Homo sapiens: one gene and its partners. The protein of the gene in region 5 interacts with the protein of the main gene of each other region in a pairwise test. Each region holds a gene or a part of one and is shown on either strand. Other genes may lie near its edges. The genes, in order: SLC38A7, APOD, BET1, SEC22A, CLEC10A, ZDHHC15 and PEX16.

What was found.
Region 1: the proteins of CLEC10A (region 5) and SLC38A7 interact in binary tests that used the Homo sapiens proteins (3 or more experiments, as listed by UniProt).
Region 2: the proteins of CLEC10A (region 5) and APOD interact in binary tests that used the Homo sapiens proteins (3 or more experiments, as listed by UniProt).
Region 3: the proteins of CLEC10A (region 5) and BET1 interact in binary tests that used the Homo sapiens proteins (3 or more experiments, as listed by UniProt).
Region 4: the proteins of CLEC10A (region 5) and SEC22A interact in binary tests that used the Homo sapiens proteins (3 or more experiments, as listed by UniProt).
Region 6: the proteins of CLEC10A (region 5) and ZDHHC15 interact in binary tests that used the Homo sapiens proteins (3 or more experiments, as listed by UniProt).
Region 7: the proteins of CLEC10A (region 5) and PEX16 interact in binary tests that used the Homo sapiens proteins (3 or more experiments, as listed by UniProt).

What each region holds. Positions count from the first base shown.
Region 1 is NC_000016.10:58,677,723-58,682,348, forward strand, and holds part of SLC38A7 (sodium-coupled neutral amino acid transporter 7), read right to left. Parts: intron 2,520-4,626; 5' UTR 2,405-2,519; coding exon 2,135-2,404; intron 1,173-2,134; coding exon 974-1,172; intron 753-973; coding exon 611-752; intron 1-610. UniProt on the Homo sapiens protein: Symporter that selectively cotransports sodium ions and amino acids, such as L-glutamine and L-asparagine from the lysosome into the cytoplasm and may participates in mTORC1 activation. The transport activity requires an acidic lysosomal lumen.
Region 2 is NC_000003.12:195,577,441-195,582,066, reverse strand, and holds part of APOD (apolipoprotein D precursor), read left to right. Parts: intron 1-2,571; 5' UTR 2,572-2,605; coding exon 2,606-2,728; intron 2,729-4,626. UniProt on the Homo sapiens protein: APOD occurs in the macromolecular complex with lecithin-cholesterol acyltransferase. It is probably involved in the transport and binding of bilin. Appears to be able to transport a variety of ligands in a number of different contexts.
Region 3 is NC_000007.14:93,994,027-93,998,652, reverse strand, and holds part of BET1 (BET1 homolog), read left to right. Parts: intron 1-2,331; coding exon 2,332-2,388; intron 2,389-4,267; coding exon 4,268-4,423; 3' UTR 4,424-4,626. UniProt on the Homo sapiens protein: Required for vesicular transport from the ER to the Golgi complex. Functions as a SNARE involved in the docking process of ER-derived vesicles with the cis-Golgi membrane.
Region 4 is NC_000003.12:123,217,817-123,222,442, forward strand, and holds part of SEC22A (vesicle-trafficking protein SEC22a), read left to right. Parts: intron 1-4,626. UniProt on the Homo sapiens protein: May be involved in vesicle transport between the ER and the Golgi complex.
Region 5 is NC_000017.11:7,073,309-7,077,649, reverse strand, and holds the end of CLEC10A (C-type lectin domain family 10 member A), read left to right. Parts: intron 1-662; coding exon 663-758; intron 759-845; coding exon 846-917; intron 918-1,497; coding exon of another isoform or gene 1,498-1,578; coding exon 1,579-1,665; coding exon of another isoform or gene 1,666-1,674; intron 1,675-1,764; coding exon 1,765-1,919; intron 1,920-2,183; coding exon 2,184-2,290; intron 2,291-2,427; coding exon 2,428-2,596; 3' UTR 2,597-3,113; downstream 3,114-4,341. UniProt on the Homo sapiens protein: C-type lectin receptor involved in recognition of N-acetylgalactosamine (GalNAc)-terminated glycans by myeloid antigen presenting cells (APCs).
Region 6 is NC_000023.11:75,369,641-75,373,321, reverse strand, and holds part of ZDHHC15 (palmitoyltransferase ZDHHC15), read left to right. Parts: intron 1-376; 3' UTR 377-3,681. UniProt on the Homo sapiens protein: Palmitoyltransferase that catalyzes the addition of palmitate onto various protein substrates.
Region 7 is NC_000011.10:45,911,419-45,915,401, reverse strand, and holds part of PEX16 (peroxisomal biogenesis factor 16), read left to right. Parts: intron 1-717; coding exon 718-798; intron 799-933; coding exon 934-1,086; intron 1,087-1,198; coding exon 1,199-1,271; intron 1,272-1,463; coding exon 1,464-1,583; intron 1,584-3,983. UniProt on the Homo sapiens protein: Required for peroxisome membrane biogenesis. May play a role in early stages of peroxisome assembly. Can recruit other peroxisomal proteins, such as PEX3 and PMP34, to de novo peroxisomes derived from the endoplasmic reticulum (ER).

The DNA of each region.
Region 1 (4,626 bases), on a different chromosome or scaffold from region 5:
CTTGAATCAGAGCAGCCCAGCCCGGGCAGGGGCTGTGGGAGACCATCCTCTGAGCCTGGCCTTTGAGAACTAAGAGATGCCAGAGGTAAGAGGGTTGAGAGTACAGACACTTTTGTGTCAACATTTATGGGAGCCTTGGAGAGAGCGGAGCATGGCCCCTGCACTTACAGACGGGGAAGCCTAGAATCCCACAGCCTTTCAGACACCGAGACAGGAAACCAGTCTCCTTCCTTCATGCCAAGCTGCAGGTAAGATGCTGGTAGGCTGACAGTCTCAAAGACCCAAATTCCTCCCAGGGAATGCCAGGAGGCTGCCTTCACCGCCCAGATACCACCTGTTCCTTCTTTGACAAGGGCACTTAGAACTGAACTACTCATGGATGCAAAAGGACATTTAGAACTGAATCTCTCATGGATGCATCCTTTTTCTATGATGGAGACAGAAAAGGATGGTCTTATCTGAAACCCTGCAAGCCCCGGTCTGCCCTGCCTTGCCTACTCTTGCTCCCCAAGGTGAGGTGGCATGGAGGAGCAGGGTTCCCCAGGAGCCCTTGGGTCTACAGCTGCCCAGGATCATAGCTTCTGTCTGACCCAGGCTGGGGCCTCCAAACCTGGCATATTTCTGGAAACCAATCTCCCTGGGGATGGAGAGGGGCAGGATGAAGAGGAAGGCAGTGAGGCTGATGGTGAACTTGCGGTCTGTGTACCAAGGGCCGCTGGCCCCCTCCGGCTCTTTCGCCATCACAGCTATAACTGCACAGGGAGGAAGGAGGGAATGTCAAGCCAGGCCACCATGGGGTGTGGCCCTCCTGCTCTGCTGGGCCCCAGGACCTCCCTCTGCCTGGAGGGAGGATTCCCAGATGAATGCTGGGCCCAGGTAAGTCCTGGAGAGGTGTTCAGTGCCTTTTCCCTCCACCCCAGGATCCCTGGGGCTGATAAGAAGAGATGGGGTAGGGACTGAGGGAGAAGCTCACTCTTGTCCTGCTGGTCGCCAATGATGATTAGGAAGGCAATGCAGGTGCCAAAGGTGTAGACAGCGATGGCCACCTCACATAGCACACCTGTCAGCTTGCCACACACAGCCCATACCACCTCCTGGTAGGTCCTCTCATTGCTGGCCTGGGAGCAGTAGGCCAGGATGACAAGGCCACTGATGATGAAAACCAGCATACCCTGCAGGCAGAGGCAGAACAAGAGCTTGTGGCAAAGGCCTGGCAGCAGAGGGCACCCTGGGCTCGCCTAGCATTTACTGGGCCAGTGCCCAAAGCAAGCTTGGCAAATCTCACAAAGGCAATTTTAAGAGACTGCTAGAGGATGCCGAGTTGAGATTTTCTTTAAAAACAAAAAGTTTTTTGAAAAATTGCCAACATACAAAAGTAAAGAGAATAGGCTGGATGCGATGGCTCATGCCTGTAATCCCAGCACTTTGGGAGGCTGAGGCAGGAGGATCACTTGAAGTCAGGAGTTTGAGACCAGCCTGGCCAACATGGTAAAACCCCGTCTCTACTAAAAATACAAAAATTAGCTGGGCATGGTGGTGGGTGCCTGTAATGCCAGCGACTTGGGAGGCTGAGGCAGGAGAATCACTTGAAACTGGGAGGCAGAGGCTGCAGTAAGCCGAGATCGGGCCACTGCACTCCAGCCTGGGTGACAAAGCAAGACTCCATCTCAAAGAAAAAAGTAAAGAGAATAGTAAAAAGAACTGGCATGTATCCATCACTCAGCTTCAAAAATGATCAATGCATGGCCAACTTGTTTCATCATTCCCCTTCCCTCCCACTCTGCATTTATTGTGAAGCCAATATAAGCTATCATATCATTTCATCAATAAATATTTCAGTATGTAGTTCTAAAAGATAAGGGCCCTCTTTTTAAACATACCACAAAATCAATGTTACACCTAAAAAATTAGAGATGTAATTGATGTTCAAATTTCTCTGATTGTTGGAAGGCTTCTGAAGCCTCATTTGGGTCACAGGAAAGAATACTAGAATAGATTAGTCATGTCTGCCATGTGTGAGGGAGGGGAGAGCAGTGCGTGTATCACTTACTGGCCATCCCTGACCCGAAGCCTCCCTTTTGAGGCAAAGCGCCCAACTGAACTGCACCTCTGCCCTCCCGGCCAGTGCACTCACCATCTGCAGTGCGATGCCTGCTGCCACGCCCCCCGCAGTGCTGAAGGCTGCTGGGAAGTTGAGTAACCCTGCACCCAGGCACGCGTTGACGACGATGAAGATGGCCCCAAGTGTGGAAGTGGTGCCTCTGTCCAGACCCCCAGGAGAGGCTTCCCACTCACTCTTGGGGGCTGTGTCCACACAGGGACTCTGCAGCAGCCGAGCCCGCTCCCCGGCATCCGTGCTCAAGTCCCACTCGCTGTAGTCATTGTTGATGCTGACCTGGGCCATGGCCCCGAGAGCCTTCTTCCTGCAAGGTCTGTGGGTTCTGCCTTACAACCACATGCCTCAGGGAGCTGAGCAACACCCACCTGTTTGGGGCTGTTAGCTTAGGACTCTTCTCAACCTAGATGGGACAAAGGCAGGCACTACTGTTATCCTAAGATGGGGGAACTAGGGGACAAAAAGGTGTAATAACTTTCCCAAGATCACATGGGTAGGGTCCAAACCCAGGTATGCCTCTGTGCAGACAGTGCACTGGGTGCCAGAGTATGGGGAGACAGACACAGAAACAGATCAGGTGCAAATCATGCTTGCTTCAGGCATACAGACTCAATGGACCAGTTAGATGTCAACATAAAATGGGTACTAACACATCAGCACTCGATAGAGGCCCCGCATCGGGCAGGTGTGTCATGGATATACTTTATCTCATTCAATCCTTAGGATGGTCTTGTGGTCAAAAGGTTCGGAGAGATCCCATCACTGACCCAGGGTCATATATTAGCAAGTTGCATAGCAGGATTTGGATCCAGATCTGTCTGGCTTCCCAGCCTGTTTCCACCCCACAGGGTCCCAAAAGGACCCCTTACCAAGAACTGAGATTCAACATATTACAGTCCAGCACGCCTCCCGGTGGCCTGGAGTCTGAATTCTGTGGCTTTCGAGGCCCTTCGAAATTCAGGCCAATTCTCGACTCTTCTCTCATGTGACAAGCCCCCATGCCTGTCATGTTTGCGTCTTCAGGAAAACAGTGATTCATCCCATGCTTCTAATGCTCCCAACTCCTTTGCCGCCACCCTTTTAGGTCCTATTTCTTCCCCATTTCCTGGGTCACTCACTGAGCTCTTCTTGGAGCCATGTAGGGGCCCAGAACCACTCTAGCTGGTTTCTTCTCAGTACTCTCTCATGTGCTAGCATCTCACTGGCCACTAGGCTTGCTTTCCTGGGCTAGATTACAATGATCAGTGCCAAACATGCAGTGCTGTTTGTCACTATAAACCACTATTGCTGCAGCTATGGAATGCTTTCTCATTCAATCCTCAATGCAGCCCTAAAAGGTAGACATGACAGTCACCATTTTACCAAAGAGGAAGCTGAATCCCAGAGGGGATAACCACTCTCCCCTCAGTCATATGGCGGTCAGTGGTGGAGCTGGGATTCAAACCCAGGCCTGTCTGACCATAGGGCATCCATCTGTTTGTATCTGCCCCACTCCTGGGTCCAAGATGGTACCTTGGGTATGGCAGAACTCAGATAACAGGCTTATCACCTGACTGATTCTCTTTGCTCTCTGGATAAACACAATTGAGATGCAGTTTTTTTTCTTCCAAGAATCTCGAGAGGCTCTGAGGAGCCCAGCCCTGAAAAAGGATCTTCAGTGTTCTCAAGGTTCAGCTCATAGCCTGAGACCCGCAGAGAAATGATGGTCCTAAAGCATCAAGTCCACCCCCAGATCAAGAGCAGCCCTGGGCAGGGCTGTGATCTGGGTCTCCGAGTAGGTTCTGCCGTCAGAATGCTGACTCCTCCGCTGCCTATCTGTGTGACCCTGGGCAAGTCACTTCGCCCCTTTAGGCCTTTACATCATATGTTCCTGTGGGTCGTGTGTTAATATCAGTAAGGGTTTAAGACTCAATAAATGGTCACTGCTGCTGTTATTTCTGCAGATGCCCCTTCCCATGTTGCCCACCACCACCATGCCTGAGACTCTCCAGCCCTAAGCAAGCAGGGAGCAGAACACTGATCAAAACCAGAGCCTGGGCCGGGTGTGGTGGCTCACATCTGTAATTCCAGCACTTTGAGAGGTCGAGGTGGGCAGATCACCTGGGGTCAGGAGTTTGAGACCAGCCTGGCCAACATGGTGAAACCCCATCTCTACTAAAAATACAAAAATTAGCCAGGTGTGGTGGTGCACCCCTGTAATCCCAGCTGTGCAGGAGGCTGAGGCAGGAGAATCGCCCGAAATTAGGAGACAGAGTTTGCAGTGAGCCCAGATCACGCCACTGCACTCCAGTCTGGGCGACAGAGTGAGACTCTATCTCAAAACAAACAAACAAACAAAACTCAAACCACAGCCTGGTGCTATTGGCCAGGTAACAATGGGCACAGAGGCCCTGGGATAGCTAATGGGAGAAAGAGCAGGAAGAAGGCCAGATTTCAAGGGCAGGAACTAAGGGGGCAGGGAGGAGCCAGGGCAGTCTTCCCCAGAGGCTGCTATTAGCTGGTTACCACCC
Region 2 (4,626 bases), on a different chromosome or scaffold from region 5:
TTACAGGCAGCATGGGATTACAGGCATGCACCACCATGCCCAGCTAATTTTTTTATTTTTAGTAGAGATAGGGTTTCTCCATGTTGGTCAGGCTGGTCTTGAACTCCCAACCTCAGGTGCTCCACCTGCCTCGGCCTCCCATGGGATTACAGGCTTGAGCCACCGCACCTGGCATCACAAGGAGTTTTAACCACAGGAATAAAACTAATGTAACCAAGAGGCATCTTTGGAAGAGGGTCAGTCAAAGGGGTTGTTCTGAAATCCTCCTACTGAGGTAAAGAATCTGTTTCAGCTCACAAGAGAGCATTTTGTCAGAGTAAGATGTAGAACTGACTTTTGTTGCAGTGTCATGTGGTGGTGAGACTCATCAGGTCACAGAGGTGGGGGGTTATTGAAAGGCCCTATGGCGGTGCACAGAAGAAGCAGATTCGGGGTGCTGCAGACAGGAGAGGGGGAGATGGAGCTCGAGTCCCAGCTCTCTGCCCCTTCCAGGCCCCAGCTTCCCCATCTGTACACCTTGGAAGTAGAGCTAGAAAGATGACCTCTAAGGTCCTATCCAGTGTGGGGACCTTGTGGAATGTGCATAGTGTGTGGCCAGTCTTTGAGGTTTGATCCTCTGGGCCAGGCTTTCAGCTTGGGCCTACTAAGTAGAATTCAAGATCTCTTTAAAATGGATGCAAATTTGTGTGGGTTTAGGCTGCATTTCTATAAATTCATCATCCCCCAAAAGGTTAAAAGACAGGTTTTGTTTATACAGTGGTGGAGCCGATGAGAAACGGAACCTCAGAGACCAGGGAAAGTGGCCCTGTGGCAGACTTGCTCAAAGGGGCCTCAGCAACCATCTCCCCCTGCAGCAACCCCAGCTGGCAAGCTGCCACTCCTTACATAACTGTTCTTTGGAAAACCAGGCAACAAAACCTCCAGGGGAAAAAAAGCTATTGATTATTAAAGGGTATTTAGAGGTTTAGAGACTCACAATAAAGCAGTTATAATTATTCCTGTAATGACACATCCTTCGAAATGCTCAGATCTGAGAACATTTTGCTTGCATTGCATCAGTCATCATCATTACAGGGAGAAATGCAGAGAGCTGGAAATAGCTCGTGTGCAAGCTACAGGCAAGGAGTCACAAGGAAAGGAGCAAATTGACAGCGAGTCAGTGAAGGAAACAGGGGAGCTTCCAATGCCCAGAACCTGCACACAGTCCTGCAGCCTCTGTCTCCCTGCCTTGCTGCCCCGCTTCAAAGCCAGCTTCTGCTGCCAAAGGACTCTTGGGGTTGAAATGCTTGTTGCACAGTTACACATCAGCTGACAGTCCTTCTCTGATTTAATGAACTTCATCTATGAAAAATACCCTCAACAGGCCGGGTGCGGTGGCTCAGGCCTGTAATCCCAGCACTTTGGGAGGCCAAGGCGGGTGGATCCCCTGAGGTCAGGAGTTTGAGACCAGCATGGCCAACATGGTGAAACCCTGTCTCTACTAAAAATACCAAAATTAGCCGGGAGTTGTGGTGGACACCTGTAATCCCAGCTACTCAGGAGTCTGAGGCAGGAGAATCACTTGAACCCGGGAGACAGAGGTTGCAGTGAGCCGAGATTGTGCCACTGCACTCCAGCCTGGGTGACAGAGTGAGACTCCATCTCAAAACAAAACAAAACAAAACAAAAACCCTCAACAGAATGTCAAAAAAAAAAAAAGAAGAAAGAAAGAAGAAAAGAAAAGAAAGAAGAAACCTGGGAAATACCATCATCTTTCTGCTTTTGATAATAACAATAACTAGCATTTATTGAGCATTTACTCTGTATCAGACACTCCTCTAAGTACTCTCTGTATATTATCTCATTTAATTCTCACAAAAATTCATGAGCTAGGAATGATAATTATTCCCATTTACTAGACAAAGAAGCTAAGGCATAAATTGGACACAGTTATACTTAGTATGGGGCAGAGTCACAATTTGAACCTGGCTGGGGTGACCCTGGAGCCCCCAGCAGGCCGCTCCCTGTTAAGGTTTCCAAGCGCACTCTTGGGCTGGTAGAACAGCCAGCAAGACGAGGGCAGGGGGAGGGATGGTGTCAGAGAGGCATCTCCCTGAAGAATCTCAGAGGACACTAAGTGTTGGGCAACATTTGGTTTGGTTTCGTGTCTTTCGTGGTTCACTTGGAGGCTTTAATCCCCCACTTTACATAGCCCTCTCCACGCTGTTTCTGTTCATTTGACAAGTATCTACTGAGCCGACACTTTGAGGTCCGTGGGTGATTCTGAGGAGAACTAGACACAGTGCCCATCCTGGGAGATGCATAATTAGGTGGGACAGGGGTGAAAATCAATCCAACAAACCAGAATACCAGGCAGAGAGCGCCCTCGTGGAGGTGCAGAGGCTCTGAGGAAGGCCTCACAGCAACAAGGACAGGCAGGTGTTCCCCTGCAGGATGAGGGTTCACATGGGCTGGGGAGAGAAGAGGAGGGACCGCCCACAGAGGGGACCATGGGCACAGCACTCTTACTTCATGATTGTGTGGCCTTAGAAGGCTCAGAATGACAACCCCAGCTGCTTTGCGTTCCCGCAGCTCCAGGTCCCTTCTCCAGCCACCCAGCCCCAAGATGGTGATGCTGCTGCTGCTGCTTTCCGCACTGGCTGGCCTCTTCGGTGCGGCAGAGGGACAAGCATTTCATCTTGGGAAGTGCCCCAATCCTCCGGTGCAGGAGAATTTTGACGTGAATAAGGTAAAAGGCGAACCTCCCGTTTGTTTTGCTGCCTCCGCTGTGAATAAGCGTTCTACAAGGTTCAATGTAATTATGCTGCTTTAATTTCCACTGCACACCTTGGGACAAGTATTTATCTTATTTGGGGTTTCCCCAAAGCAGACATCTGCTGAGATAAAGACTGCAGGCAGAGAGGTTTGGGATGATCCCGGGACGCACGAGAGCAGGTGGGAAGGTGAGTCGGAGACAGCACAGAAGCAATAAAGGGTGCGTTCCTGAGCTGTCGCCCTGGGCCGTCAGGGTCAGTCACACTGGGCACCCTCTGAGGACACGTGGAGCATGCCCCTCCGATTGTCCCACAGCTGCTGCCAGCAGGTCATGGGAGCATCCGTGGCTCTAGCTGAGCCCCCTGGCAGAGGAGAGACACAGGGTCTCAGGTGGGAGGCTGGCAGTGTCTGGGAATTGCCTACCGTGGCTGCGGTGAACTCAGAGGTGGGCTGAGGGGAACAGGACCAGGGAACCATAGTAGCTGCTACAGAGCTATTATCCTTGTTCTACAGATGCAGCATCGGAATCTCCCTCCCCAGCTCACGCAGCTGGTAAATGCAAGTAGGATTCAAAACCAGGCTTCTCAGCAGTGCAGGGCACCCAAAGGTCACTCAAACAGGGCTCAGGAAAGCCCAAAATTCTCCAGGGGGCTTTCTTGGTATCTGCACCAAAATGTCATCAATACAACGAGCTCCTCCATAGATGGTCTTTCTTCCTGGGGTTTAGCGGGAGGGGAAGGAAGAGGGCGGCAGAAAGAGGCAGCTATTGGAGGACAGGACTCACAGGCTCCCACTGTTGCTACTCAAGCCTGGAATCTCACCCTTAAGACTTCCTCTCCTTAGGAGAAGGTTTGGATCTCTTTTAAGAATGGCAACAGTAACATCGAAGTTGTTATCATACACTCGCACCTCAAGGTGAATGAGTGTTGGGACCTCTGAGGGGACGCTGGGTGGGAGAAGGAGCACCATCCATGGGATCAGGAGATACAGGTGTGGTAGGAAGAGGCCATAGAGTACACTAACGTCTACACTGACTTGCTCCACTTACAGGCTGATCCCTTTATTCAGGTAACTCTGATAGACCACAGAGAGGCTTTAAAGAAAACATCCAAGGAATCTGAGTTATACTTTCGCTTTTGGATACAAATCCCAAAGCACTTTGGAAATGATAACTGATCTGTATTTATAGAAGTCCTTTGAGAATTAAAGCAGGATTTAAAAAATAGCAGCTTTATTGAGATATAATTTGTATAGCACGTAATTCACTTGTTTAAAGTAGCTTTTCACTTTCCATTGTTGTTAGTATCATCACAGAGTTACGCAACCATCACCACCACCATCGATTTAGAACATTTCACTGTTCCGAAAAGGAACCTCATACCCATTCACGGAGTCTCCATCTCCCCTCCAACCCTTCCAGCCCCAGGCAACCACTAATCTACTTTCTGTCTCCGAATTTGCCTATTCTGCATATTTGATAAAAATGAAATCATACTATATGTGGTCTTTTGTGACTGGTTTACTGAACGTTTTCAAGGTTCATCCACGTTGTAGCATGTATCAATACTATATCCCCTTTTATTGCCAAATAATATTCTTGTAGGAAATCGTTATAGGAAATCAATTGACTGTATATGTGAGAGTTTATTTTTGCACTCTCAGTTCTATTGATCTATATGTCTATACTTATGCCAGTACCACACAGTGTTGATTACTATAGCTTTGTAGTAATCAAAGCCTTGAGGTAAGCTTTGAAATAAGAACACATGTGTCCTCCAACTTTGTTCTTCTGGTTATTCCGTGTCCCTTACATTTTTATATGAATTTTAGGATCAGCGTGTCAATTTCTGCAAATAATCCAATTGGAATTTG
Region 3 (4,626 bases), on a different chromosome or scaffold from region 5:
GTTTTGGCTCACTGCAACCTCTGCCTCCTAGGTTAAAGCAATCCCCCTGTCTCAGCCTCCCAAATAGCTGCGATTGCAGGTGCCCGCCACCACACCCGGCTAATTTTTGTATTTTTAGCAGAGACAGGGTTTTACCATGTTGGCCAGGCTGGTCTTGAACTCTTTATCTCAGGTGATCCGCCCGCCTTGGCCTCCCAAAGTGCTGGGATTATAGGTGTGAGCCACCGCACCTGGCCTATCCCCTGGTTTTCTTAGTTGAACTATTGGAAGAACATCTTAACCTATCTGTTCCTGTTTTTTTGCACATTATGATCTGAGCTATATAATCATTGCCACAGTCCTCGTTTAGAATATTTTAAAACTTGCATCCTGCACTCCCAGAAGTCTTCAGCGTCCTTCCATGATTTAATAAAGTTCATGCTTCGTAGCTTGATTAAATCAGATAGATCTTTCAAAAATTGGCCTTAGCTTTTGAGATCTTATCTCTCACACTTCCAGAATCTGTATGTGCTTCCTGCTAGACAAATTACACTTTGTGTCCTCTGTATGCTGTCACTTTCCCACCCCCATATCACACTATCCCTTTGCCTTAAGCCTCCACTTCCTTCTTAGATCAACTGAAGTGCTGCTTATCCACATCCGCCCCACTTCATTGCACCCCCTCCCTCCAAACTTTTACCTGATTACCACATCCAAAAGTAACTTTTCTTCTTATGAACATAAGACCATTTGTGCCATTTCTGTAGCACTTATTCATAGTGATTTGCATTGGCATTATTTGTATGTAAAAGGAATTTACCAGAATGCAGGTTTTCTATTGTACTTACTTTATATTCTATATAGCACTTAGCATAATTCCTTATCAATGGTGTTGAGTAAATTTGTATTGAACCAAAGAATTACACGAAGATGATTTTAATAATATATGTGATTGATACTGCATTATAATGAACATGACGTTCACTTATAAAGCATTCAGTAGAAGCCCATGTTGATAAAACTTAATTGGTATTTCAATATAGTCTTTGGAAAATCGAATTACATTCAGTCTGGAGACCTTTAGATTTTGAAACAGGATTGTTTTCAAAGTCATATTAAACTAAAGTTGATTTATGAACTAAGTAATATTGTATAATGTTAATTTTAAAAATACAACACTTGGAAGGACTTAAGAATTAAATGCCTTTAAAAACCCCCCCAATGTAGATAATTTAGATTACTTGTTAGAAGAAAGTTGTGATGTCCTGGAAATATTTTTCCTTGGCATGAATGACAGTGATAGAAGTTGAGTAATGTGGGCAGTCTAGCTTTATAGTTACTTTATTATCTCTGAGTTGTTAAATCTGGGAGGAAAGCTCATGTTCTGATCTATAGAATTCTAGTATGGTTTTGTATCAGTATTATCCCATGTGCTTTCACACAGATGAAGAACAATATTTGCAGTGATTTACCAAGATTTTCAGTAGATGATTCTATTTATTTAAATATCTTGGAAGTGAAGCCTTTGATGAATCTGTCCTATAAAGTATTAGATAGATTTTGGTTTGAATAGTTGTCATAATTAGCTATAGTATTGTATTTTGTAAGCTATGGCTCTTTTCTTCAGAGCTTCAGGAAGTAAGTAACACTAATATTTATTTTTTTCAATTTATTATCATATTTTAAAGCAAAAACCTTTAAACTAAGGAAAAATCAGTTTAGACATATTTAAAGTAATGTAACATTTCATTAGGAAAATATTAAATACTTCTGTCTAGATTTGAATTGGTTGTATGGGTACTTCTAGATCTTTCAAAATGTAATAAGGTTGGGTACTAGGCTTAATTCTTGGTTGACGAAATAATCCGTACAACAAATCCATGTGACATGAGTTTAACTGTATAACAAACCTTCACCTGTACCCCCAAACCTAAAATAAGTTAAAATATATATATATAATTTATAAAATATAATAAATAAAATGTAAGAAGGAAATATACAGATATTTGTAGGAATTTGTAGCTTTTGTAGGAATATAATAAAGATATAAAAGCATACAAGGTTAAGAGAATCAGAGAGAAGTAGTACATACCAAATTAAAAGATGGAATTGAATATTAAGATGAAATTAAAATAAAGAGGAAAGAAGAAATGTCCATAATTGGGAGGAGTAGAAATTCCAAATTTATTTTTTATTGATCTTGGTAGAAAAAGTATCAGAAAAAGAGAGTTTATGTGTCTAGAAGACCGTTTCATTTCAGAAAATGTGTATGCTTAGAATGACATTATTTTTACTTTATAACACTTGAATACTTTTATGTGAGTAATCCTGTGTATACCTTCTTCTTTATAGCTTTCCATTGAAATAGGCCATGAAGTTAAAACCCAGAATAAATTATTAGCTGAAATGGTAAGTGGTTATGATTTTAACTTTAAGAAATTTGATCTAATATTCGCAAATAATAGAATTTCAACTTTTATTCATTTTGAAATACAGAGATCGTAAGTCCTTGATTCCCGTCCATTTGTATCTAATGTGTTTGGAATAACTATAAGGTTTATTTTGCCATGCTTTTGCATTTTTCATCTCGTCTTACGCATGTAAGTGGGAGGAACAAGTGGAAGCCAATATATCTTTAATCCTGTTTTTAGAATGATTGTTAAAAACAAGACAAATGACTATTTTGAGTAGTCTTAGAAGTCTCAATAGTAGAGACTACTAGTAATTTATTAACCAAGCAATCAAAAGGCACTTGATATCCAACCAACTAAATGTCGTTCACTTAATGGATACTTACTCTTTTGCTTGATTTCCTAAGGATCACTTATGAAAAAAGTGCTCATACATTTGAACAGCCCAGAGCCTTTTCTCTCTAACAACATATACCTTTTCTTGTTAGAGTCCCCTTCCATTTGTTAACGTTTATCTTGAATGTCAAGCTTCTCTGAACCTTCTCTGGTTCCATGTGCTTTTAAAATTGTGCTATTCAAAAATGAATTTGGCATCAAAAGCAATGTTCTTGCTAAGCTTGTGCGCTATAATAAGCTAGGGACCTCTTTAAAAATGTATATGCCTGATTCTGTCTTTAAATATACTGATTTAGAATTTCGTGAGGAGGGATCTAGATGTAAATATTTTGAAAAAAGCATCTCTGGTGATTCTGATGCATAACCATGAAAAAGCATCTCCGGTGATTCTGATGCATAACCATGGTGAAGATCCATAGATCTAAAGTATATGAGCCACATAGACACTGAGCTATACAAAGGATATTTATTATTATGCCAGGGCTTTTACATCTCAGGATATTATAATTTCTATGAAAGTATGTGTAATATTTCTAGTCCCTACCTAAGCCTCTCTCATCTTTAGGATTTTCCAGCTATGTTTTAATACGTTAGTTTTTCCCCATCCATATTTATAGTCCTTATCACATTTTACTACCTCTATATGATATTCTCTTAACTTAATAGACTCTACTTCAAAGTCAGCTGTCTAAACAAAAGGATATTAAAAGTAAAGGTCCAAGGCCTAGCATGGTAGCTCACGCCTATACTCCCAACATTTTGGGAGGATGAGGTGGGCGGATTACCTGAGGTCAGTAGTTCAAGACCACCCTGGCCAACATGGTGAAACCCCATCTCTACTAAAAATACAAAAAAATTAGCTGGGCGTGGTGGCGTGCGCCTGTAGTCCCAGCTACTTGGGAGGCTGAGGCAGGAGAATCACTTGAACCTGGGAGGCAGAGATTGCAGTGAGCTGAGATTGCACCACTGCACTCCAGCCTGGGCAACGAGCGAGACTCCGTCTCTAAATAAATAAATAAGTAAATAAAAGTACATTTAACTGCTAACCGTATTACATTTTGGATGAAATCCTCTACTTGGGTAGCAGTCAACCATTTGACCTTGGAGAGCAATGGCACAACAAAAAGTGGGGAAAAAAATCTGTGTGATAATGCACAAAGTACTTACATTTATTGTTAATTTTTTTTATCCACATAATTGGAATAACACCTAAATAGTTTTGAGTTGTTGAATTACTCTGTGGAGCTGAAAGAAGTGTTTATTGGACAATGAAAGAGCTTTTTATTCGCTGAGAGTATTACTGTATTTTGCATGGAGAAATCAGGCTGATTATCCAAGGTTATCAACAGGCTCCTGAATTGATTAAACACAAAACTGTCATTACAAATGTACTATGGTAACAGTTATTCAATTACTTGGATATGCATATGTAGACTCTTAGAATCTAACTGTGATATTTTATTTGCCTTTATCTCTGATAGGATTCACAATTTGATTCCACAACTGGATTTCTAGGTAAAACTATGGGCAAACTGAAGATTTTATCCAGAGGGAGCCAAACAAAGCTGCTGTGCTATATGATGCTGTTTTCTTTATTTGTCTTTTTTATCATTTATTGGATTATTAAACTGAGGTGATGCATGTAATTGTGAATTTGGAATTTGTTCCAACTTAATGGCTTGCAGTACCACTTTGATAAAAATCAGCATCAAAACATTCCTAGTGTTCAAATACTGTGGCATTTTCCATTGAAAATTGCTGAATTTTGCTTATTTTATAAATCACATTAGTTAATACAGTGGTCTTTGAATACTGTTTCTTAATGACTCATTTTAGCCCC
Region 4 (4,626 bases), on a different chromosome or scaffold from region 5:
TCCCCAGTAGTAGTATGGTAAGCTCCTGGCAGGCAGGGACTATATCTTTGACATCAGAGCCTATGAAGTAGAATGCTGGCCCTATGCTAGGTGTTCTGTCTGCTGAGAGGAAGATATTTGCTATTACTAATTATTTAGTTTGGTGCAACAGGCCAGAATTGTCCTAATAATGTCAGTGTTTAATTGGTGATATGTAAAATTTCTTCGACAGTTTGTAAATCAAATTAGATACTAGAAAAAAGTTTAATGTGTAAAACCATTTATTCATTTTGTTGAACATAGGAATCACTTGTGGAATGGCTTGGACACATTATAGAATTAGCTTTTTAGCAAAGTGATTAGAAGGGGTAAATCTCCTATGTCTGGTATTTGGACTTCTGCCAGTCTTACCTGTTAGGTTATACTTGACCCTAAAGAAGTTCCTAGTGGGTGTGCCAGGGAGGAGAACCAAAAATATAATGAAATTGGATAAATTCCTCAGGTAAAAGAAAAGCAGTACCAGTAAAGACCAAACCCCACTGGCACCAAAGCCCAGAAATGGAATGGAGCTAAACAATATAAAGGAAATTAGAGCAAAGTAGGAAAAAACCTTGGCAATTTAAAAATTGTGCCCAAGATAGAGAAAAGAGGAGAGAGTGTGTGTTTGTATGTGTGTCTGTCTGTGTGTGAGTAATGACAGTGATAAAGGGAGAGCAGACAAGTCTTTGAGACCTGCATAGCCATTCTCGGGGTACTCACTGTGAAGGTGAGTAATTCTACCTGGCTCTTGAGAACATCCCTCTCTTAAGGACATGTCGAAGATTCACTGACCTGAACCCTCAATAAAGCCTTCTGGAGAACAGTAACTAGAAGACAAGTGAAGTTCTACTCTCTTCTGTCATTTAGTCAAGTATTTATTGAGCTGCTGCTTTGTGTAGATACTACTAAGCTGTACAATTACTGGTGCATGATATACTCAACAAATTAGTGTATAAATGAGTAAAGGAATGATGCCACCTTTGCACTCATTTATTTACTGAGCACTTATGGTATACTAGACACAAAATATTCTAAGTGCTAAGAATATAATGGTGAGCAATACAGAAATCATCCCTGCTCTCATGGAGTGTGTATATTAGTGAGAGAGACATTGCAACAAAAATATATTAATATACAATTACAAATTGGGTTAGTTTGTGAAGAAAACTAACAGCTGCTATGATATACTGTAGGAGTGGGATCAGTTTAGATTGTGTGTTCTGGGAAGGACTTTCAGTCTAAGAACTGAAGGATATGTAGGAATTAGCCAGTTCAGAATTGGAGCATTGCAAGTGGGGAAGACAAAATCATGAAGTTTCTCAGTTTGGAAGTGGGAGGGCTGGAAGTGGGTTGGCATCCTTGGGGATCTGAAATAAGGCCAGTGGGTGGCTGGAATGTAGAGAGGGAGGAGTAAAGATGTACAAAATGAAGTGGAGTGTTTGGGAGGGCTTCCAGAAGATAACTGTAATACAGGTTCCAAAACTCAGAAGTTTCATTACTCTTAATTTCGGGAATAAAATAGAGATTGATTTGTGGCTTGGAAAAAGTGAAAAAACATTGGTGAATTAGGGATAATTGGTTAATCTATACTACATGGAAGTTGGTATTGTATTGTGGAAAGAATGTGGGCCTTGGAATCAACTAACTTCATCCTATCTTTGCTTCTTAATGGTGTGTGACCTTGGATAAGTTACTAAGCCTCTCTGAGTTTCTTTTCTTTCATTTGTAAAATGGAGATAATAGTGCCCCTTTATTGAGAGAATGAAACTAAATATGTAAAATACTTAGCAAAGGGCCTAGCTCATACTAAGCGGTCAGTAAACTACGTGGTGCTATTACTCTTACTACTATTTCTCTTCTTTCTCCTCAAGGCAGATAGACATCCGCCAGATTGTCTATAAAATATTAGCTAGGTGAACCTGATGAACACAGCAAAAGCATGCACAAACTGGCATGCCTGTAATGACTTTAGACTATTTTATGAGTAGTCCTCAGTGAAGTGGTGGGAGTATTTCAATCTGTCCCATGATTGTTGAAAAAGCAGAATTTTTTTCATCACAAACATAAATGGAACTGTATATACTTTGGGAAAACTAGCTTTGCATTTCAAATAAAGCATTATAAAACTAAATTTACTATGAAAAGCCATAATGTTATAGAACACACTATAGCCTTTTCAGAGAGAATCTTGCAACTGTAGTAAAATAAAGACTCCCTGAAAATGCTCACATGCCATGTTAAAGACATAGGGTTTCCTTTATTTCACATACAATTGTCTAGTTACATTTAGCACAAGTAAGATAGACCATTTGGGATAAACTGTCATGTAGGTGTCTGTGGCTGACTCTGTTATTAATATGGAAATACAGTAAGACTCTGACATAATACAAAAAATGGGTTCCAAAAACTTCAGTCATATTAATGGAGGATAATCAAATAACTCCTAGCTAGCCAATTGGGAGTTCCTAGGATGTGGAAGCCAATTACCAATTGTCTTCAGGTTATTGAGGTTATTATGGGGTATATTTGAATGCTAATGACATGTCAAAGAACTTTGATAATGACAGTGAAGATTTTTTTTGGAAAGAAAATCATTTGACAAAGCATATTTTGACCTTTGATTTAGATATTAATTTGTAGAAAAAGGCAATATGCTATGGCTAAATTAATTTGATTATGATCCTTAAGAGATACATTTTACTTTGTGAATGCTGTATATACACATATAGGAAACTAAAAAGTTTTATGAAACAATATTCCAATATTTTCTGTTATATTTTATTTCAATTTCTGGAAAATGCTGTAGTTCACTAAACTAGTTTTATGACATAGTGGTTTACAACTTGCACTTTGAAAAACATTGCACTAAATGACTGTGTATTAAGTGATGCTTCAGAAAGGAACAACCAGGTTACTCTAGAACCATAAGATCAGCACTATTTCACCACTAGTATATCCCATACCACTAGTAATAGACGACTAGTAGGTGGCAAGCCCATTTGGCTGCCTAGGATGGTCTTTAAAAAAGGTCTCATATATATATATACATATATATATATATATGTCACATGTATATATTCACACACATATTTACTTACAAGCTCTCACAGGAAGGATACATAAGAAATTATTACTAACCTGAATTGCCCAAGGGAAGGAGAACTGGGTATCTGGGCAAGAGTGATAAGACACTTTAAGTGCAGTATACCCTTTTATTTTTCATTCTTGTTAAATTTGAATCCTGTGAACATATTTATTCTAAACATTAATAAATTCTGCTTCTATGTTATTCGAGAAAGAAAATAGTAAGGTGACCAGTATGGATCAGAATTTTACAGTAAAAATTACTGTGTAGGCCGGGCGTGGTGACTTAGACCTGTAATCCCACCACTTTGGGAGGCCAAGGTGGGCAGATCACTTGAGGTCAGGAATTTGAGACCACCCTGGTCAACATGGTAAAACCCCATCTCTACTAAAAATATAAAAATTAGCCAGGTGTGGTGGTGTGTGCCTGTAATCCCAGCTACTCAGGAGGCTGAGACAGGAGAATCGCTTGAACCCGGGAGGCGGAGGTTGCAGTGAGCCGAGATTGTGCCACTGCACTCCAGCCTGGGTGACAGAGCAAGAGTCCATCTCAAAAAAAAAAAAAAAAAAAAAAAAGATTACTGTGTAGTTTAGCAGAGTCCAGCATAGGAGTGGTGAATTACATCCTGCATGCTGTTTACTGCCCCTGATCTAGACCAGCTATATTGACAGTGCTATGCAATGATGTTTAGGTGACTCATTAAAAAGGGTTACTTTGTGTTTTGTGCTCTGCTTATTTATTATAGTGGGGTATATACTAGATTCTAGAAAGCTTTTTTTCCAATAGAATATGGTTAATTTTCATGTTTCAGTGCTTATTTTTTCATTTTTAATTTCTGAATTTATTTAGAAGTAATTTCAAACTTACAGAAAAGTTGTATGAATAAGAAAAGTTCAAATAACACCTGTTCCCATAGTCACCTTTGGTCAACATTTTACCACATTTGTTTTCTCATTTTATCTACCTACCTACTTAACTATCTGATTTATTTTTTTTTTCCTGAACCATTTGAGAGAAACTTATAAATACCATGCCCCTTTCTTCATAACTACTTCAGAGTATATTTTCTAAAATTAGGGATATTCTCTTACTTAACCACAGTACACATATCAGCCTCAGTAAATTTAATGTTCCTACCATACTTTATCTACTCTACTGCCAACTTTCCTTTTTTTGTCGGTTGACCCAGGAATATGCTTTATAGCATTTTTTTTTTTTTATTGCTTTTTGGCACAGGATTTGGACTAGTGTTAGGTATTGTATTTAGTCGTCATATCTCTTTAGCTTCTTTTTTTTTAGACAGAGTCTCTCTCTTGTCACCCAGGCTGGAGTGCAATGGCGCAATCTCGGCTCTTTGCAACCTCCACCTCCTGGGTTCAAACGATTCTCCTGCCTCAGCCTCCTGAATAGCTGGGATTACAGGCATGCACCACCATGCCCAGTTAATTTTTGTATTTTTAGTAGAGACGGGGTTTCACCATGTTGGCCAGGCTGGTCTCAAGTTCCTGACCTCAGATGATCCG
Region 5 (4,341 bases):
ATGGGAATGGTGGGGGGCATTGATGGAGTGATTGATGGGAATGGTTGGGGGTCACTGATGGAGTCATTGATGGGAATGGTGGGGGGGCACTGATGGAGTGATTGATAGGAACGGTGGGGGGTCACTGATGGGGTGATTGATGGGAATGGTGGTGGGGGTCACTGATGGAGTGATTGTTGGGAATGGTGGGGGGCACTGATGCAGTGATCGATGGGAATGGTGATGGGAGCACTGATGGGGTGACTGATGGGAATAGTGGGGGGCACTGATGGAGTGATTGATGAGAACAGTGGTCGGAGCACTGATGGAGTGATTGATGGGAATGGTGATGGGGGCACTGATGGAGTGATTGATGGGAATGGTGGGGGGGCACTGATGGAGTGATTGATGGGGACGGTGGTGGGGGTAGTGATGGAGAGAGTTGACGGACCCATAGTCAGGATGGCTGCTGGCTTTGTCACTGAGTAGTTGGGTTATGTACTCAAATTACTTCACCTCTCTGAGGCTTAGTTTCCTCATCGGCAATATTGAACAATAATAGTGCCTGCCCCACTGGGTTGCCGTGAGGACCCAATAAGGCAATGCTTATGGAGGGCCCTGCTCGGTGCTGGTACAGAGGACCTGATGAATCCCAGCACTGACCTTCCCATCCACCTGTTTAGATTCCAAATTTCAGAGGGACCTGGTGACCCTGAGAACAGATTTTAGCAACTTCACCTCAAACACTGTGGCGGAGATCCAGGCACTGACTTCCCAGGGTGAGTCTGGTTTGGATGGGGCTCTGGGCTGGGGCCAGGCCAGGGAGGAGGAAGTTGACCCCTAAGCCAAGTCTCCGTGTCCTCCAGGCAGCAGCTTGGAAGAAACGATAGCATCTCTGAAAGCTGAGGTGGAGGGTTTCAAGCAGGAACGGCAGGCAGGTGAGAGACCCTCCGAGTATGGGTGTGGGGGGCTAGGCGCTCAGACACAGTGGAGGTGGGAACAGACTCCTGGTGCTGAACTGCCCTCCCCTTCAGCCAGCAGCTTGAAAGGCAGCATGCAGGCCGGGCGCAGTGGTTCACGCCTGTAATCCCAGCAGTTTGGGAGGCCGAGGCGGGTGGATCACGAGGTCAGGAGTTCGAGAGCAGCCTGATCGACATGGTGAAACCCCGTCTCTACTAAAAAAAATACAAAAAATAGCTGGGTGTGGTGGTGGGCGCCTGTAATCTCAGCTACTAGGGAGGCTGAGGCAGGAGAATTGCTTGAACACGGGAGGCGGAGGTAGCCGTGAGCCGAGATCGCGCCATTGCACTCCAGCCTGGGCAGCAAGAGTGAAACTCCGTCTCAAAAAAAAAAAAAAAAAAAAGAAAGAAAGAAAGAAAGGCAGCATGCTTTCTCTGGAGAGCAGGCTGGAGAAACAGGGGCAGAGGAATCCAAAGCAGATTTGATGGCTGTACCTGGCCATGATGTAGGGGGTGGGTGGGGGCGGGAAGGAACATTCCCTGGCTTGGCCCTGTGCAGGGGTATCTGAGCTCCAGGAACACACTACGCAGAAGGCACACCTAGGCCACTGTCCCCACTGCCCATCTGTGTGTGTCCCAGTTCATTCTGAAATGCTCCTGCGAGTCCAGCAGCTGGTGCAAGACCTGAAGAAACTGACCTGCCAGGTGGCTACTCTCAACAACAATGGTGAGGAAGGTATGGGGAGTACCTGGCCCTACTTTTCTGCCCATGGCCCACTGGGCAGAGCCTCAGCCTCTCCACCCTATCCTATTTCTCCCCAATCAGCCTCCACTGAAGGGACCTGCTGCCCTGTCAACTGGGTGGAGCACCAAGACAGCTGCTACTGGTTCTCTCACTCTGGGATGTCCTGGGCCGAGGCTGAGAAGTACTGCCAGCTGAAGAACGCCCACCTGGTGGTCATCAACTCCAGGGAGGAGCAGGTGAGGGCTTCTGGTACTCAGTTCCTAAGACATGTCCCATTTAGGGAAATGGTTCTTAAGCTTGGCCGCACATTGGAATCATCTGGGAGCTTCCAGAATGACTGTCATCTGTGCCACACCCTCAGAGATTTAATAGGCCTGAGCATCCAGAGAAACATCTCCAAACTCCTCAGTTGATTTAACGAAGAGCTAAAGTTGAGAATCACTAGTTTAAGGAGTTGGCTGGGATGGGAAGAAGTCACCACTGCCCTTCTGTCACCGCAGAATTTTGTCCAGAAATATCTAGGCTCCGCATACACCTGGATGGGCCTCAGTGACCCTGAAGGAGCCTGGAAGTGGGTGGATGGAACAGACTATGCGACCGGCTTCCAGTGAGTGCACCCTGGCTTTCTGTGCCAATGTCCTCCGTCAGCGTTTCCCCCAGGGATCTGACTGGCAGCCTCTCCTCCCCTGAACTGAATTCTACTCCATCTACCCTTCCTAGCTTGCTGTTGTCTTTTCCTCTCAGGAACTGGAAGCCAGGCCAGCCAGACGACTGGCAGGGGCACGGGCTGGGTGGAGGCGAGGACTGTGCTCACTTCCATCCAGACGGCAGGTGGAATGACGACGTCTGCCAGAGGCCCTACCACTGGGTCTGCGAGGCTGGCCTGGGTCAGACCAGCCAGGAGAGTCACTGAGCTGCCTTTGGTGGGACCACCCGGCCACAGAAATGGCGGTGGGAGGAGGACTCTTCTCACGACCTCCTCGCAAGACCGCTCTGGGAGAGAAATAAGCACTGGGAGATTGGAAGCACTGCTAACATTTTGAATTTTTTTCTCTTTAATTTTAAAAAGATGGTATAGTGTTCTTAAGCTTTTATTTTTTTTCCAACTTTTGAAAGTCAACTTCATGAAGGTATAATTTTTACATAATAAAAATGCACTCATTTAAAGAGTAGAGATGACTTTGACAAATATGCATGCCTAGGTGACTACCACTCCGATCGCAATAGATAACATTGCCATCGCCCCCACCAGTCCCCTCATGCCTCTGGGCAGTCCAACCACTTCCCTGTTTCCAGGCCAGTGATCTACTTCTTTTTCACTATTTATTGGCCTTGCCTCTTCTAGAGCTTCTAGAACTTCATATAAGTGAAATCATACACTCTCGTGTATATACTTCATATAAGTGAATATATACTCTCGTGAGAACTTACGTACTTTGTGTTGCTTGATTTTTGGCAATCTAAAAATGGCAGAGTGGAGAAGCCAGGTGAAGCCTTCGAAAGTCCTATGTGATTGAGAAAATAGCATTTTCTTCTCATATAGATTTGAGTTCAAATCTTTTCTGTCACTTAAAGATGGTATAAACTTAGGGTGATTAGGAAAAGCCATTGTTTAATTTCTCTGAAGATCCCAGAGTTGTTGGGAGATGTAGATAAGATCCCCAGGTGTATTGGTTAGCAATTGGTGTGTAACAAACCACCTCAAAGCTCAGGGCTTATACAGTAAGCATTTATTATAGCTCATGAGGCTATAGGTCTGGTCTGGCCAGGTTTGGGTCATCTTGGCTGGGCTTGTTTATGCGTCCGTGGTCAGCTGGTGGGTTGGCTTGGGGTTGGCTGGTCTAGGGTAGCCTTGCTCCCATGTCTCATATTTGGCTGGCTCTGGGCTGGGACAATGGGGATGACTGGGCCACATTAGCTTAGCCTGGCCTTGTTCACAGAATGGCTGGGTGGGGGTCCAAGAGAGAAATTGGAAGACTGCAAGGACTTCAGAGCCTTGCTTGGAACTGAAGCATCGTTTTTGCTGCATCCTATTGGCCAAAGCAGATTGCAAGGCTGCCCAGGTTCAAGGGCCAGAGAAATAGATTCCACATTTTGGTGGGGGGTTGGGGGGGGGTCTACAAAGTCATACTGTGTAGAGAATGGATATAGAGAGGGGTGGAGATTTCTGTTTTTTCAATCAATCCAGCATATACCAGGGAAGCATCTCAGCTATTTTGATTTTTTTTTTTTTTTTTTTTTTTGAGACGGGAATTTCCTTCTTGTTGCCCAGGCTGGAGTGCAATGGCGTCATCTCAGCTCACTGCAACCTCCGCCTCCCAGGTTCAAGTGATTCTCCTGCCTCAGCCTTCCGAGTAGCTGGGATTACAGGAGCCTGCCACCATGTCTGGCTACTTTTGTGTTTTAAGTAGAGATGGGGTTTCTCCAGGTTGGTCAGGCTGGTCTCCAACTCCCGACCTCAGGTGATCAGCCCGCCTCGGCCTCCCAAAGTGCTGGGATTACAGGCATGAGCCACCACACCCAGCTGCATTTCAGCTATTAAGAACCAACTTTTTAAGTTCATTAAGGGATGGCAGGACCCATTCATTGCTGTATTACTGTACCCAGAAAGCTCCCTGGCATATAGGAATGTCTGAATTAGCTGTCAGGATTTGCTGA
Region 6 (3,681 bases), on a different chromosome or scaffold from region 5:
TCAAAGCTCTTGTTATTTCCATGTGGATTTCAAAAATAGTATTTTTGAAGTATCAAATTATATATTTACTAAAGAAAATGTGGAAAATGCAAGTAGAAGGTAGAGAAATGAAAACAAATTACCCATGAATCCACCACTTTCAATAGTTCAGTGTATTTCCTCAGTCTCTTATTCCAAATGTAATTTTGGGGGTCAAAAATATAGCATTGTATATATAATTTTATATCCTGCCTTTTTCACTTAACATTTTTCAGTGCTGATCTATACTCTTCATAAATGTAATTTTAATGGTTGCATATTATTGTCAAGTGGGTGTTACCACATGAATATTTACAGTTGTTCAGCTCATCTGTGAATTTCTTCTCTTCATTCCCAGGACTCACCATCTCTGCCTCCCATGAGGCTTACAGAGTTCAATGTTGGAAATCATTGTAATCTTCAAAATAAGTCACCGTGTTGGATTGAAAGCTTCAAAATTTGAAAGAATTCCATCAAATACTTGCTGTGTAAATGTTTCTGGACTTTATGTTATTTAATTTACTGACTGAAATCCAATTTGGAATTTGGTAGCAGTTAATTCAAGCCAATTTTTTTTGTTTCTTCATTTCCCCTCCCCCAATCCATGAAAGCCTAAATGTAAAATATATCTTTTCATTCATCTTATCAGGTAAAAGGAAATTCAGAAAATTTCCTTAGAGTCTTTAATTCCCCCACAAAGATTATTAATCACATATATAGGGCCTTTTTGGTGTTGAAGGGAATCAAACTACATTTGCTGCTTGTGTGCGTGTGCATTTGTGAACACGTACAGCATATCTATACAAAATTCTGCTATAGTGTGAAAATCAGGGCTAAAAACCTGAAGCCTTTGTTTAATTATGCTTTTCCTCTAAATAGCAACTTAAATATTTGCTAGACTTTGAATCATCGCTATATCAAGTATCTAAAATTTGGGAGGGTGAATCAGTACACTGTGACCAAGGTCCTCAAATTGGAATTTGAACAACAATGTAAAACCTGTTCTGTCACAAATGTTCCTGAAAGCACCACAGCTACTCAAGAAGATCAAATTCAGGACATAAACTTTATTGAACATAATAACCAGTGTTTTTTAAAGACTTTTTTGTCAGGGTGCAGTAAAATTCTCCAATTACTTTTATTCATTTATCTGCTTCCTAGTTTTATTTTAGCCTTTATGAGTTATTTTATGATGAAAGAAAATCTATAAGCCTAAGTTATGGCCCATAGGTTTTGTTAAGGGTTTTCAGAGTGATTTTCAGGTTTAATTTCACTGCCTTTCATAAGGGTAAAGTTTCACAGCTGACATTAGCCTGAGGATTAGCACTAAAGAGCTGTGTTTTCATAGCAGGGGCTATTGTACAGACAGTGATAACCAAATAGTAATATGCCAGTTCTTTCTTCTTTTTTTAGCTTCAGTAGTAGCTAAGCCATTAATACAGTTTGCATCAATTTCCCCATTTATTTATAATCAGCCTTTCTTTTAGTCCTAGTGCCTGAATCAATGAGTGAGAATACTAGTACTGATTCTTTACAATAATAATATCTTAAGAGTATTGATATCTTTCATTTTTTCATCCAGCAGTCTAGTGCCCAGCTGCTGACAATAAAAGCTCCAACTCTTTTAGAGATCAGTGGAATTTAGAAGCATCTTACAGGTATCAAGGAATTGAGCTTCTAGAGGGATGGTTTGGCTTACTAATTTATCTTCCCTGAAATATGTTTGAGTAAAAAAGAGTTGCCTGCCACAATTTAGTGTTGGGGTTCCAGTGGAGCTGAGAAAGTGAACAATCCAGCTACTTAAAGCAACAACAAAACCTGTTCATCTGGATCCCTAGGTAATTTTGACCAAGGTGAGACTTTTGGCATAAATTAAATGGATTGTGGTCAGCATTACATTTGAGAGAATACTAGACATGACTACACTTATTAGGGCTAGTGACTTTCTCAAACTCAGAAGCTAAAAAGCAGCCTAGATGACTATGCACACACTGGGTTTCAAGATGAAATCTTCTTATATATTCAGATGGAAAAAAATTTCCCCTTACACTCTTTCTCAAAATACTCTCATTTCGGTTTTTCCTGAAACCTTATTTGGCCATTCCCATGGTTTTATGACAGACAAGCCTTGTCTTCTATTCATATAGATATGCACCTTTTTCTACATGTATGGCCTTTACTTACTACACAGCAAGTAGGCCTCAAAGTAATCTTCCTCTTTCCCATCAATCATCTTCTGCCAAGCATTCAGGCAGAGCAGCTGTTAACTGTGATTCAAAGTCAGAAAAACATCAAGAACTTCTTTGATGCATAGGGTGTATCAGCACTCAGCTCCCACAGAAGTCAAGTCACAAAATATAGTGTCAGTTAACTATAAGGAAGTTCCGGAGAGGTAAAGCTCAGGAAAGATGTAATGCAAAGCTGATTGTTTAATGTCTTACAGATTTACACTGTCTTTAAAAGGCCAAATAAGGCTGGGCGCAGTGGCTCACACCTGTAATCCCAACATTTTGGGAGCCCAAGGCGGCCGGACCACCTGAGGTCGGGAGTTCAAGACCAGCCTGACCAACATGGAGAAACCCTGTCTCTACTAAAAATACAAAAATTAGCCAGGAGTGTTGGTGCATGACTGTAATCCCAGCTACTCAGGAGGCTGAGGCAGGAGAATCGCTTGAACCTGGGAGGTAGAGGTTGTGGTGAGCTGAGATCGTGCCATTGCACTCCGGCCTGGGCAATAAGAGTGAAACTCTGTCTCAAAAAAAAAAAAAAAAAAAAAAAAAGCCAAATAAATCAGGGTTTTACCAGGGGCTCAGAGATAAAAAGAAAACCTATTCCTATCTTAGCATTTTGGTCTCATTGGTTTATAGACTCTGATAATATCCCTATCCATGGATCATTTGAGTATTGACTAATGTACATAGGTACCCAACTGGTTGATTATTAATCAAGAATACAGAACTTTATTTAATAATTAGCACACCCTGATCTGGCTTCTTTGCTTGCTTTTCTTTGGATCCCTGTCCAATAACCTCTGTGGAATCTCATTCCCTAATTGTTGATACTCATTTTCTCCGTTTGCAAAATGAAGATACTCATTGTTAGGATCCTACTGCTGAAGGGTGCTATGTCACTTTCTAGTGCTCTTATATGTCTTTAATTATAGGACTGGAATGAAAAGCTTAACCATACAGTATTTCTAAGCAAAATAATGTACTCCATTCTTTTGTCCATGCTCTCATTGCTGATTTGTTCTTGCAGGACTTAGAGCACTTTGTTAATGTTCTTCCATTCACTCCAACAGCGTCCTCAGAAAGAGACAGAATAAAAAAATTGTTCCCCATGGTACAGCTGGAAAAATTAAGGGGAAAAGAGATTAAGTGGTCCCCAATGGAACACAGCTGTCTTATGCAGGGCTCACAGTTACCATGTTCAGTACATTGTTAAAGTAACTTGGCTTCCCAGGACTGGAATTATCATGGAGCAGTTAGAATTTTGAGAGTAATTACAACAGGATCACATTCTGAAAGAGTCACATTTTGTCAAAAATCTGAAAAGTATGCAATTTGTACAACTCTTACTTTCTATGTGATAAGAATGCAATATGTGCCTCTTTCCCCTACTAGCCCCATGTGACACATATTTTTCACACTATGTGGCATCAAC
Region 7 (3,983 bases), on a different chromosome or scaffold from region 5:
CCAGCATGAATACAGTAGTATCTGTTTATGGAGCACGCCTGTCCCTATCAACTATGTGTTCTCATTGCCATGTATTCGACAGAGAAGACAATGATGCGGCTAGGGACAAAATCAGAACACGAACCCAGTACTTGTCATGGCCAGAGTCATTCATTTTTGTAGCCTGCAGGAAGAGGGAACAGATGGGATGCCGCCAACCTCGACTCTGAGCCTGGTTCTGTGTCCAGAACCATAGCCTCTAGAGGCAGGAGGCAGGGCACGCACCACATCTGTCCCTTCAGGGCTTTGGGCCCATCCCGTCAGCTTCTGGGCCTCACTCTCTGGACATTGAGTTGGGGCCGTTCATTGCCTCTCATCATGATTGTTTTGAAGGCAAAGGATTGAGAGGAGACGGCCCCTCTGGTGCTGTGGTCTCCATAGATGTGGTCAGGCTGGGCCTTCCCTGCCTTGCCTGTCCATGGGTTCCGGGAGGCTGGCTCTGGCCACAGCTATGCTGAGCTTTCCCCAGGCTAGGGAGGGCTGCAGAGTGCTTTCCTCTGTGGACGGGTCTTGTGCTGAGCCGCCACCCTGCTTGTAGTTCCCTTGACTCAGCTGTTGCCATAGTACAAGCTCATCTGTTCTCCCCTTAGCTCCTGAGCATTCACTGCACACGTTCTTTGCAGGCTCCGCTGGAAGCATGTCCCTCTGACTGTATGGCCTTCTGTCTATCCCTGCTAGATGGTGACCACAGCCCTGGCAACCATGAGCAGTCCTACGTGGGGAAGCGGTCAAACCGGGTGGTGCGAACCCTCCAGAACAGTAAGTGGAGGATGTGGCTGGCCTGGGCACCTAGGTGCTGTCTGCCTGGGCTTGAGGGACTGGCTTTGGTCAGCAGCCACCTTCCCCTGCCCCAGCCTGGGCCTGGCTCGCTCATCTGCCGCCCTTGTGTTCTAGCGCCGTCCCTGCACTCCAGGCACTGGGGAGCTCCCCAGCAGCGGGAGGGACGGCAGCAGCAGCATCACGAGGAGCTGAGTGCGACCCCCACCCCCCTGGGGCTGCAGGAGACCATCGCAGAGTTTTTGTACATTGCCCGGCCGCTGCTGCACTGTATCCTTAGCGCGGGGCAGGATAGGGCTGGCACTGTGGGCTGGGGATTGAGTGGGGAGTGTGCTGAGCAAGGCCCCTGTGCTGGAGACATCCTTGACGCCTTGGCCGTCAGTGCTCAGCCTGGGCCTGTGGGGTCAGAGGTCGTGGAAACCCTGGCTCTTGGCTGGTGTTGTGGACGTGACCAGGTGAGCCTGGGCCTGCCTGGGGCTTCACTCTCCACTGGGCTTTCTGCTATAATCCTGGCCTCACATAGGCGGGGTGGCAGCGGCCCCTGCTCCTCCTGTTGCTGCCCCTCTGGACACCCAGCCCATGGCTCCTCCCCTTCCGTGGGCCTAGATCATGCCCCTGGCCCTGACCATGTCCTCCCTGCCTCCCAGCCTGAGCCTCCTGAGTGACAGAAAGGGCCTGACCCGGAGGGAGCGGCGGGAGCTGCGGCGCCGGACCATCCTGCTGCTCTACTACCTGCTGCGCTCTCCTTTCTATGACCGCTTCTCCGAGTAAGCACCCAGGACACCCTGAGCCAGGGAGAGGGCTGGCAAGCGGGCACTGGTGCTCCGGTCCCTGCTGGCGCCTTCCCTTCCCCACGCCTCATCCAGGGTTCACCAAGCACTGTGTGTTGTCCGGGTGGCAGTCACCAGATGCCAGCCCAGTCCCGCCCGCAGAGCTCTCTGGGCCATCAGGCCACTTGAGCAGGAACTTAAACATTGGTTGGCAGGAGAGGCACTGAGGGCAGGGCTGAGGGCATTGCCAGGTGGCCCACAGGGATGGCGACAGGGCGGGCGCCCATGGCCTCTAGCTCATTTCCACTTCTTCCTGCCAAATAGTTTGGCTTATCCTCACTTCTCAGAGGAGGACCTGGAGGTTCAAGGAGGTTGGGCAACTTAAAGACACCCAGCTAGCCAGTGGTAGAGCTAGATCCCAAACCCAGGATCTCCCCTGGCCTTCCCTGCCTGGCCCAGCCCCCACTCAGTCACCTGCGAGGGTCCAGAGCTCCCAGCCTGAGAGAGGCCTGCTGGGTTGAGCAGGGGGCAGCTTGGGACTAGTTCTTCCACAGGCCTGCCACTATGACTGCTTGAGGTTAGACCACAGTCTGACAGGGGGAAACCCTGTGCAGTGGCTGGGACTGTGAGGCAGACAAGGCTCCCGGGACCCCCTTTGTCTAGGACCTAATAATAGCTTAAAAACTGGCATAGGCTGGGCAGCAGTGGCTCACACCTATAATCCTAGCACTTTAGGAGGCCAAGGCAGGAGGTTGGCTTGAGGCCAGGAGTTCGAGACCAGCCTGGGCAACCCAATTCTACAAAAAAAAAAAAAAAATAATAATAATTAGCCAGACATGGTGGTGTGCGCCTGTAAGTCCTAGCTACTCAGGAAGCTGAGGCATGAGGATCAGGCCAGGAGGCTGAGGCTGCAGTGAGTTATGATCACTCCATCCCACTCTAGCCTGGGTGACAGAGTAAGTCCCTGTCTCAAAAAAACAAAACAGAAAAAAAAAAACAAAACTGGCATAGTTTAGCCAGGCACGATGCCTCACACCTGTAATCCCAACACTTTGGGAGGCCGAGGCGGGCGGATCACAAGGTCGGGAGGTAGAGACCATCCTGGCTAACATGGTGAAACCCTGTCTTTACTAAAAATACAAAAATTAGCCAGGTGTGATGGCACACGCCTGTAGTCCCAGCTATTCAGGAGGCTGAGGCAGGAGAATCGCTTGAACCCAGGAGGCAGAGGTTGCAGTGAGTCGAGATCGCGCGACTGCACTCCAGTCTGGGTGACAGAGCGAGACACTGTCTTTTTTTGTTTGTTTGTTTTTGAGATGGAGTCTGGCTCTGTTGCCTGCCTAGGCTGGAGTGTAGTGGTGCAATCTTGGCTCACTGCAAGCTCTGCCTCCCGGGTTCATGCCATTCTCCTGTCTCAACTCCTGAGTAGCTGGGACTATAGGCGCCCATTACCATGCCTGGCTAATTTTTTTTGATTTTTTAGTAGAGATGGGGTTTCACCGTGTTAACCAGGATGGTCTCGATCTCCTGACCTCGTGATCCGCCTGCCTCGGCCTCCCAAAGTTCTGGGATTACAGGCGTGAGCCACCGCGCCTGGCCTGACCCATCTTTTTTTTAAAACAGAAAAAAGAGTAAGGCTGCTCCTTCTGGACCACACCCTGGCACCTCTCTGGACCCTGCTCCCTGTCCTTTAGGGAAACAAAGGCCCGCCTTGGCCTCCTAAAGTGCTGGGATTATAGGTGGAGCCACTGCACCCAGCCAGCCTTCTTCTTTTCTTTTCTTTTGTTTTTTGGGACGGAGTTTCACTCACGTTGCCCAGGCTGGAGTGCAATGGCGTGATCTCGGCTCACCGCAACCTCTGCCTCCCGGGTTCAAGCAATTCTCCTGCCTCAGCTTCCCAAGTAGCTGGGATTACAGGTGCGCGCCACCACGCCCGGCTAATTTTGTATTTTTTAGTAGAGATGGGGTTTCTCCATGTTGGTCAGGCTCGTCTCGAACTCCTGACCACAATTGATCTGCCCGCCTTGGCCTCCCAAAGCGCTGGGATTATAGGCATGAGCCACCACACCCGGCCCCCAGGCTTCCTCTTTTCTTGCTGCTCAGACAGACATATAAGGAGTCAGGCCGCCTTCCAGATGTGTAGCCTTGGGCAAGTTATTTGATGCGCCTGTGCCTCATTTCCTCACCTGTAAGATGGGGATGATGACAGTACCCACTTTGTAGGGGTTCAGTGACTAACGCGTACAGCAGTGCGTGGGGTGTAGTAAGCACGTAGCGCTATGTATTGTCATCAGCATCCTCATCTCACCCGAGTTCCCCTGTGGAAAACCCTCCTGTCTTAAAAATCAGGGCCTTGGGCCTTGCCCCTTCCCCTGAACCAAAATGTGCCCTCTTCAG